Linked DNA regions of Homo sapiens. The protein of the gene in region 1 purifies or fractionates together with the protein of each later gene. This does not show direct contact. Each region holds a gene or a part of one and is shown on either strand. Other genes may lie near its edges. The genes, in order: DNAAF11 and PHLPP2.

Region 1 (3,918 bases):
CATTCACCCCTTGGCTAAGACCAGAAACCTTGGATTCTCCCTTAATTCTTCTCTCCCTCATTTTATCAGTGCGTCCTATGAACTCTTCCTTCGATATTATCAGAATCCAGCCACATCTCACTGACCCCACCACCACCACTAGTGGACACTAACTCTTGCTTGGACAGTTGCAATTGCTTATTAAGCAGTCTCCATGGTTTATCTGTTGGCCTCCTACATTCTGTTCTACTCAGCTAAATAAAGAAGAAAAAAGGGAAGAAAGGATACACGCTCCTTTTCTTAAGGGACATTCTTAGAAAGTGCCATACAACGACTGTCCCTCACATGACCTCACCCACCTGCAAGGGAGGCCAGAGAATGCAACCTTTATTGTACATAGCCATGCCCCTAGTTAAAACCATGGTTCCTGTCACTAGGAATAAAGGGGAAGCAGATAGCAACTAAATAGCAATCTCTGCCATAGGAAAATTCTCTGAAATTACTTTACAAGTAATAAGCAATCGAGGCAGAGCAGGAGCATATAAAAAGGCTCCTGAGATGAGGTTCTACAAATGCATGGGTCATTTGAGACACTGAAGAAGTCCCACAGGCCTGACTATTGAAAGCAATGAGACAGTGCCTGCCACAAGCAGAAATGGGGCGAACAGCCAAATCTATCGCTAACTTCACATTTTCCTAAACAGTTTAGCTTATGTTCTTTAATATTGTTGAGTTGTATGTTTTATAGAGTAATACAGTAACTGAAATGTTCAAAAGAAAATTGACCAGGCAATTCTGATAGTATGTTGTTCAGTGTGGAAGCTAGACCTAGGACTCAACCTCGGGGTACAGTTGAAAGATGGTGGAGCTTTGAAATCCTGCCTAGCCAGGCTCGTGCAGAGAAAGTGTAAAGGCATTTATTATAATTCAGCTATGCCAACCTCTTTGAACCTCTGTTTCTTCATCTATAAAACAGAGGTAATAGATAATGAGCAGTGTCTCAGCCTTTTTCAGGGCAATGGAAAGGTCAGCGATGAAAGGAGAAGAAAAAAGATAGCAAGAAAAAAGAAGGAAGACAGGACTCTAAAACTTAAGGAATAGAATGCAGGATAAAGGGGAGGCAAAAGCAACCTTTAGTTCTCCATAAATAATTCCAATGTTTTAGTTTGCTTCTGGCAAACTCATATGAGATGGAAAAGAAAACTTTAGCCACCAGATGTCTCTATCTCTGCACTAAAGCTAATTTTTTGTGTGTAATTTACCTTAAGATTCTCACATTTAAACACTGTAAACACAAATAATTTATTAATATGTTGTAGGTTTTGCTGAAATGTTAAAATTACCGTTGATATTTGATTGTTCAACCACTAAAATAAGTTGTCTTTGGATATTATTATAGAATTATTATCTAATCTGCTTATGAATTTATGATGGGGTTTTCTATACAGTATCCTAAAGACATCTCTTTTTTCCCACCAAATGTGTTATTCTTAGAATTGACTTCTCTTTGAAAGATAACGAAAAGCAGATCATCCTGGACCTTGCTGTCTATAGGTAAAGACATTTTCTACGTATTTATTTATGACATTTCTGTCTGTTTTCATTCTCAGTAGTAATTTTTTAGTTTGAAAAAATTGAAATGGAATTGACTTAGACCTATAGTTAAATGAAGCTTATTTGTTAAGACAGAGAAGTTACTATAATTTTTAAAAGCATGAAAATGAAAGGAAAGGTAAATAAAGCCACAATTTCATGGATATGAACTCAGGAATATCTAAGGCAGAGTTTAAATAATTCTCAGACCTGTGCTGTTTTCTGATGCTGATACTACAAGGACCCCACTCTGTCTTTGCTGGCATAGTCCTCTGTTTTTGTCTAAAATGCCTTCCTATAGTAGTAGGTATCAGGTGATCGGCTCCCCTCCCTCAGTCCCATCTCAGAGGCCTGGGGGAACACCTAGCAGCCCCTGTCACCAGTGGACCCTTCTTCCCTGCTGCCCTCTCACATCCTGCCTGTTTTCTCACCCATGGGTAGGAGTGGCACAGACCTCCTGCCTGCCCTCATCACCACACCCAAACTATTGTCCTTTTCTCCTCCCTAAAGCTCCATGGCTTTGACACTCAAACCTTCAGCCTGTATCCCCTTCTTCTCTTCTTTGTGGAAGCATCTAAAGGCAGCAGGTCACTCTGCCTCATTCCCTGAAGATTTTAGGCCCTGGTTCACTGTGCCGATACATCCTTCTGATGACCTCAGTGTCCCCTGGCACCATCTCAGAGGCTGCTTGCCTGTGCTTCCCTCTGCCTGTATCACCCTCGGTGTCCTTGTGGCTTGCTGCCTCGTGTCCTTCAGGCCTCTGCTCAGATGTCACCTCATTAGAGGGGCCTCTCTGCCCCACCATCTGACATAAAGCAGTACCTACCCCTGCCCAGCACTTCCTTCCACTCTTTCTACTTTTTGACTTCCTGCTGACAAAGTGTAAATTTACTTGTATTCTTAAAAGTTTGTGGTCAGAGCAGGAAGCTTGTTTTGTTTGTTCTTTCCTCTCTACATCTCCACACCTAAAACAATACCTGGCACCTGTTAGGTGCTCAATAAACACAAGAATGAATGAATGAATGAATGAACAAATACTGATGATGGGAGTATGACATTGACATGCATGAATGAATGGATGAATGTTTACATGCATGAATTATAATAAATGCCTTTCTCTTTTTAATGGCTTTTGATGTGCCCCATTTTATTTAATCTCTCAGTAACCCTGGGAGGTTGGAGGGATTATTACCCAAGAGGGGGTAACTTTTCCAAGAGTGAGTCTTGTCAAAGTGAACAGGGACCGAAGGAGCCAGAACATCAGCCCTCAGGACTTCAACCAACTTTGCTGTTTTGATTGTGGTAAAATACACATAACTTAAAATCGACCATTTCAACCATTTCAAAATGGACAACACCATGGCATTTAATAAATTCACAATATTGTACAACCATTACCATTGTCTAGTTCCAGAAAATGTTTATCACCCCAGAAGGAAACCCCATGGTCCTTAAGCAGTCACTGCCCATTCTCTGTCTTCATGGCAACCACTAATCTGTTTTCTGTCTCTATAGATTTGCCTATTTGGGATATTTCATATTAATAGAATCATACAACATGTGGCCTTTGTGTCTGGCTTCTTTCACTTACCATAATGTCTTCAAGCCTCATCCATGTTGTTGCACGTGTCAGAATTTCCTTCCTTTTTATGGCCAAATACTATTCCATTGCATAGATGTACCACATTTTGTTTATCCGTTCACCAGATGGTAGGCATTTGGGTTGTTTCCACCTTGGCTCTTGTGTACCAGGGCTAGCCTTAGTGTGGTCCCTTCCTCTCCACACCAAGCTGTCTCAGATCAGCTGTGTGCCTCTCCACAGAATTCCTGTCAATTCTTCTGCCTGCTTGCTGCCAGGTTATCTGCCTTTACAAAGATCCCAGCTCTTCTCCAGCTAGCTTCATATCCTCTGCTCCTCCAGCTTCCCAAGCTGCCGTTTCTACTGTTTTTCAGACAAATCACTGTTTCATCCTTGTAAGTCCTTTCCATTTTTAGGCCCTATGTCTGGTGTTTAATGAATGTATAACCCTTTCTTTTTCAGCTCTGTTGGCTGCTTCCTGTTCAGTCCTCAAATGGAAACATTCCTCATTCCCATGCATGTGCATTTTAAGGGGTGGTAATATTTCTCCAGTCTATGTAGTAAAACTCTTTCATTCCCATGATTCTGTCTAAATGAATTATGCTATAATTCCTGGTTATCTTTATGGGCACATAGGTGTCTACTTGAAAGTTAAATTCATTCGTTCACGCCTGCTTCCTGCCTTTATTCAACAAGCATCTATAGAATACCTACTATGTGCCAGGCATGGGGAGACTGTAACTGTCTCCCCAGTCATGATCTCCTAT
Region 2 (3,918 bases), on another chromosome or scaffold:
ACTCAGCTTATAGAAGATAGGAAGTTACAGCTAATGTCGGTGTGTGTCATGAGATTCATTTTTTTTTTTTCAAGAACAGTTTTGGGTGTTTAGCAAAGTATGTATAAACAATTAATGCCAAAAAAAATTTAAAAAGATTTTTTTTTAGAGACATAGCTTCATTGTGTAGCCCACGCTGGAGTGCAGTGGTGTGATCATAGCTCACTGCAGGTTCAAACTCCTGAGCTCAAGTACCTCAGCCTCTCAAGTAGCTAGGACTATAGGCACATGCCTGGCTAATTTTTATTTTTATTTTTGTAGAGATGGGGTCTTGCTATGTTGATCTCAAACTCCTGGCCTCAAGTGATCCTCTTAACCTTGGGCTCCGAAAGCACTGGAATTACAGGCATGAGCCACTGCACCCAGCCCAAAACGTTATTATTGTTATTATTTTTTTGAGGCAGAGCCTCTCTCTTGCCCAGGCTAGAATGCAGTGGCGCGATCATGGCTCAAGTGATCCTCCTGCCTTAGCTTCCTGAGTAGCTGGGATCATAGGCACGTTTTTTTTTTTGTTTGTTTGTTTTGTTTTTTTAGTAGAGATGAGGTCTTACCTTGTTGCCTAGGCTGGCCTTCAACTCCTGGGCTTAAAGGCTGTCCCTCCTCGGCATCCCAAAGTGCTGGGATTACAGGCATGAGCCACCGCACCCAGCCCCAAAACATTTTTAAAGCGCTGACATATTCTTTCTCTATCTCATCCCATCCCTCCCCACCGCTTTCACAATATTTAATAACGTGTGTATTCCCAGATATGAGTCTATATTGTTTTAAAGTTTTGAATGCAGAAACATCTTCTACCTAAGAGTATTTCACATTGTTTTTTTTTTTTTCGTCTTTTGTTTTTTTTTCCGAGGTGGAGTTTCGCTCTTGTTGCCCATGCTGGAGTGCAATGGCACGATCTTGGCTCACCGCCTCCCGGGTTCAAGCGATTCTCCTGCCTCAGCCTCTCGTGTAGCTGGGATTACAGGCATGTGCCACTACGCCTGGCTAATTTTGTATTTTTAGTAGAGACAGGGTTTCTCTATGTTGGTCAGGCTGGTGTTGAAGTCCTGGCCTCAGGTGATCCGCCTGCCTCAGCCTGCCAAAGTGCTGGGATTACAGGCATGAGCCACCGCACCCGGCCGTATTTCACATTCTTGCAGAACTAACTGAATATGGAGAGTTACTTTACCAGACCCTGTTTATACCATGTATATCTTATTATTGTATGTGAGTGTGTAATAGTATATCACCTTTGAACTGATCATTGCCCTCATGGAACACTTTTAGAGTTAAAAGTATAAAACTGGGCTGGGCACAGTGGCTAACTACTATAATCCCAACACTTTGGGAGGCCGAGGCGGGTGGATCATTTGAGGCCAAGAGTTCAAGACCAGCCTGGCCAACATAGTGAAACCCCGTCTCTGCTAAAAATATTTTTAAAAATTAGCTGGGCGTGGCCAGGCGCGGTGGCTCACGCCTGTAATCCCAGCACTTTGGGAGGCCGAGGCTGGTGGATCACGAGGTCAGGAGATCGAGACCATCCTGGCTAACACAGTGAAACCCCGTCTCTACTAAAAATACAAAAAATTAGCCAGGCGAGGTGGTGGGCGCCTGTAGTCCCAGCTACTCGGGAGGCTGAGGCAGGAGAATGGCATGAACCCCGGGGGGCGGAGCCTGCAGTGAGCCGAGATTGTGCCACTGCACTGCAGCCTGGACAACAGCGACACTCCGTCTCAAAAAAAAAAAAAAAAAAAAAAAATTAGCTGGGCATGGTGTTGTGCACCTGTAATCCCAGCTACTCAGGAGCCTGAGGCAGGAAAATCGCTTGAACCCGGGCGGTGGAGGTTGCGGTGAGCCGAGATCGTGCCACGGCACTCCAGCCTGGGCAACAGAGGGAGATGCTGTCTCCAAAAAAACAAACAAACAAAAGTGTAAAATTGAAGCAGTGGGTATTTAATTCATGGCTTACCCTCAAGACTTTTGCCTTCTAGAAAGATTTTTTTTTTTTTTAAAGACAGAGTCTCCTTGTGTCACCCAGGCCCATAGCTTATAGAAGATACGAAGTTACAACTAATGTCGGTGTGTGTCATGAGATTCTTTTTTTTTTTTCAAGAATAGTTTTGGGTGTTGAGCAAAGTATGTATAAACAATTAATGCCAAAAAAATTAAAAAAGATACTTTTTAGAGAGATAGCCTCATTGTGTAGCCCACGCTGGAGTACAGTGGCGTGATCTCCGCTCACTGCAGTCTCCACCTACTGTGTTCAAGCGATTCTCATGCCTCAGCCTCCAGGGTAGCTGGGATTACAGGCATGCGTGCCACCACCCCCGGGTAATTCTTCTGTATTTTTAATAGAGACGGGGTTTTGCTACGTTGGCCAGGCTGGTCTCGAGCTCCTGACCTCAGGTGATCCTGCCCGCCTCAGCCTCCCAAAGTGCTGGGATTACAGGCATGAGCCACTGCGCCCGGCTAGAAAGATCTTTAAATCTAAAATACGCTCTTTGTATACTTGTTTGATGTAAGAGGTAATTGTCATTGTGTTCCCTTTCAAATAAATTTGTGATAACAATTCTATAAGAGTAAGGGGAAAATAATTTTCTCAACCTAGCAATTCCAGTAGAATGGTGATTCTAAAAGTTGAAAGCACCTCAGAGGACCGTGTCATCTGCAGTCCTGGCTCCTAGGAAGGTTTTTCCAGCAGTTAACTGATGTGTTAAGCAGTGGAGCAAGACATTCTTGAGAAGAAGGAAGCACTAGGCAATTCAGCAGTGGCTAATAACAGCTAAACAGTCCATCTAGATTGTTGCTGTAAGCCTTTGCTTTGCTTAATATCCAGGCCTTTTAAGTGCCCATCGGTCAGGTTTAAGAGAATGATATATACTGAAGTTGTAACTTAGCAGTTTATCTTCTTAGGGCGGAATGTATCATGTAGACAGGAGATAGATCCTTTGAGGTAAATGATGACCAACAGCGTGTATATTTTGTTGTTGTTGTTTTAATCTTTATTTTATTTTAATTTTTTTTGAGACGCGGTTTCACTATGTTGCCCAGGCTGGTCTTGAACCCCTGACCTCAAGTGATCCTCCCTCCTTGGCCTCCTGAAGTGCTGGGATTACAGGCATGTGTTTTGTTTTTTTTTTTTTTGAGATAGAGTCTTGCACTGTCACCCAGGCTGGATTGCAGTGGCGCAATCTCGGCTCACTGTGGCCTCCGCCTCCCAGGTTCAAGTGATTTCCTTGCCTCAGCCTCCCAAGTATTTGGGATTTCAGGCGTGCACCACCACGCCCAGCTAATGTTTTTGTATTTTTAGTAGAGACGGGGTTTCACTATGTTGGCCAGGCTGGTCTCGAACTCCTGACCTTGTGATCCGCCTGCCTTGGCCTCCCAAAGTGCTGGGATTACAGGTGTGAGCCACTGCGCCCGACCGCATATATGTTTTGATAATGTAAAGTTCCTTAAGGAATTTATAATCTAAGGTAAATATATATGCACTAAAAATGACTGTTAAAAATCCTCACAGAAGAAAAATCAGGCCTGGTGTGGTGGCTCATGCTTGTAATCCCAGCACTTTGGAAGGCCCAAGCAGGAGGATTGCTTGAGTCCAGAAATTCAAGACCAGCCTGGGCAACATAGCAAGACTCCATCTCTTAAAAACATACAAAAAATTAGCTGGGTGTGGTGGCATGTGCATGTAGTCCCAGCTACTCTGAAGGCTGAGGCTTTAGGATCACTTGAGGTCAGGAGTTCGAAGCTGCCGTGGGCTATGATCACGCCACTGTAGTCCAGGCTGGGTGACAGAGCGAGATCGTGTCTCAAAACAAACAAAACTTCCTGGAGTCTTCCTTGACTTTTCTAAGATTTAGAAGGTCAGTGGACCATTATTTGACCTTAGAAAGTTGT

Evidence for each region.
Region 2: the proteins of DNAAF11 (region 1) and PHLPP2 purify together in Homo sapiens (affinity purification with mass spectrometry; 2 studies listed by BioGRID and IntAct, with this or other methods). This does not show direct contact.

The regions. Positions count from the first base shown.
Region 1 is NC_000008.11:132,612,653-132,616,570, reverse strand, and holds part of DNAAF11 (dynein axonemal assembly factor 11), read left to right. Parts: intron 1-1,473; coding exon 1,474-1,533; intron 1,534-3,394; exon of another isoform or gene 3,395-3,546; intron 3,547-3,918. UniProt on the Homo sapiens protein: Involved in dynein arm assembly, is important for expression and transporting outer dynein arm (ODA) proteins from the cytoplasm to the cilia. Acts as a crucial component in the formation and motility of spermatozoal flagella.
Region 2 is NC_000016.10:71,717,824-71,721,741, reverse strand, and holds part of PHLPP2 (PH domain leucine-rich repeat-containing protein phosphatase 2), read left to right. Parts: intron 1-3,918. UniProt on the Homo sapiens protein: Protein phosphatase involved in regulation of Akt and PKC signaling.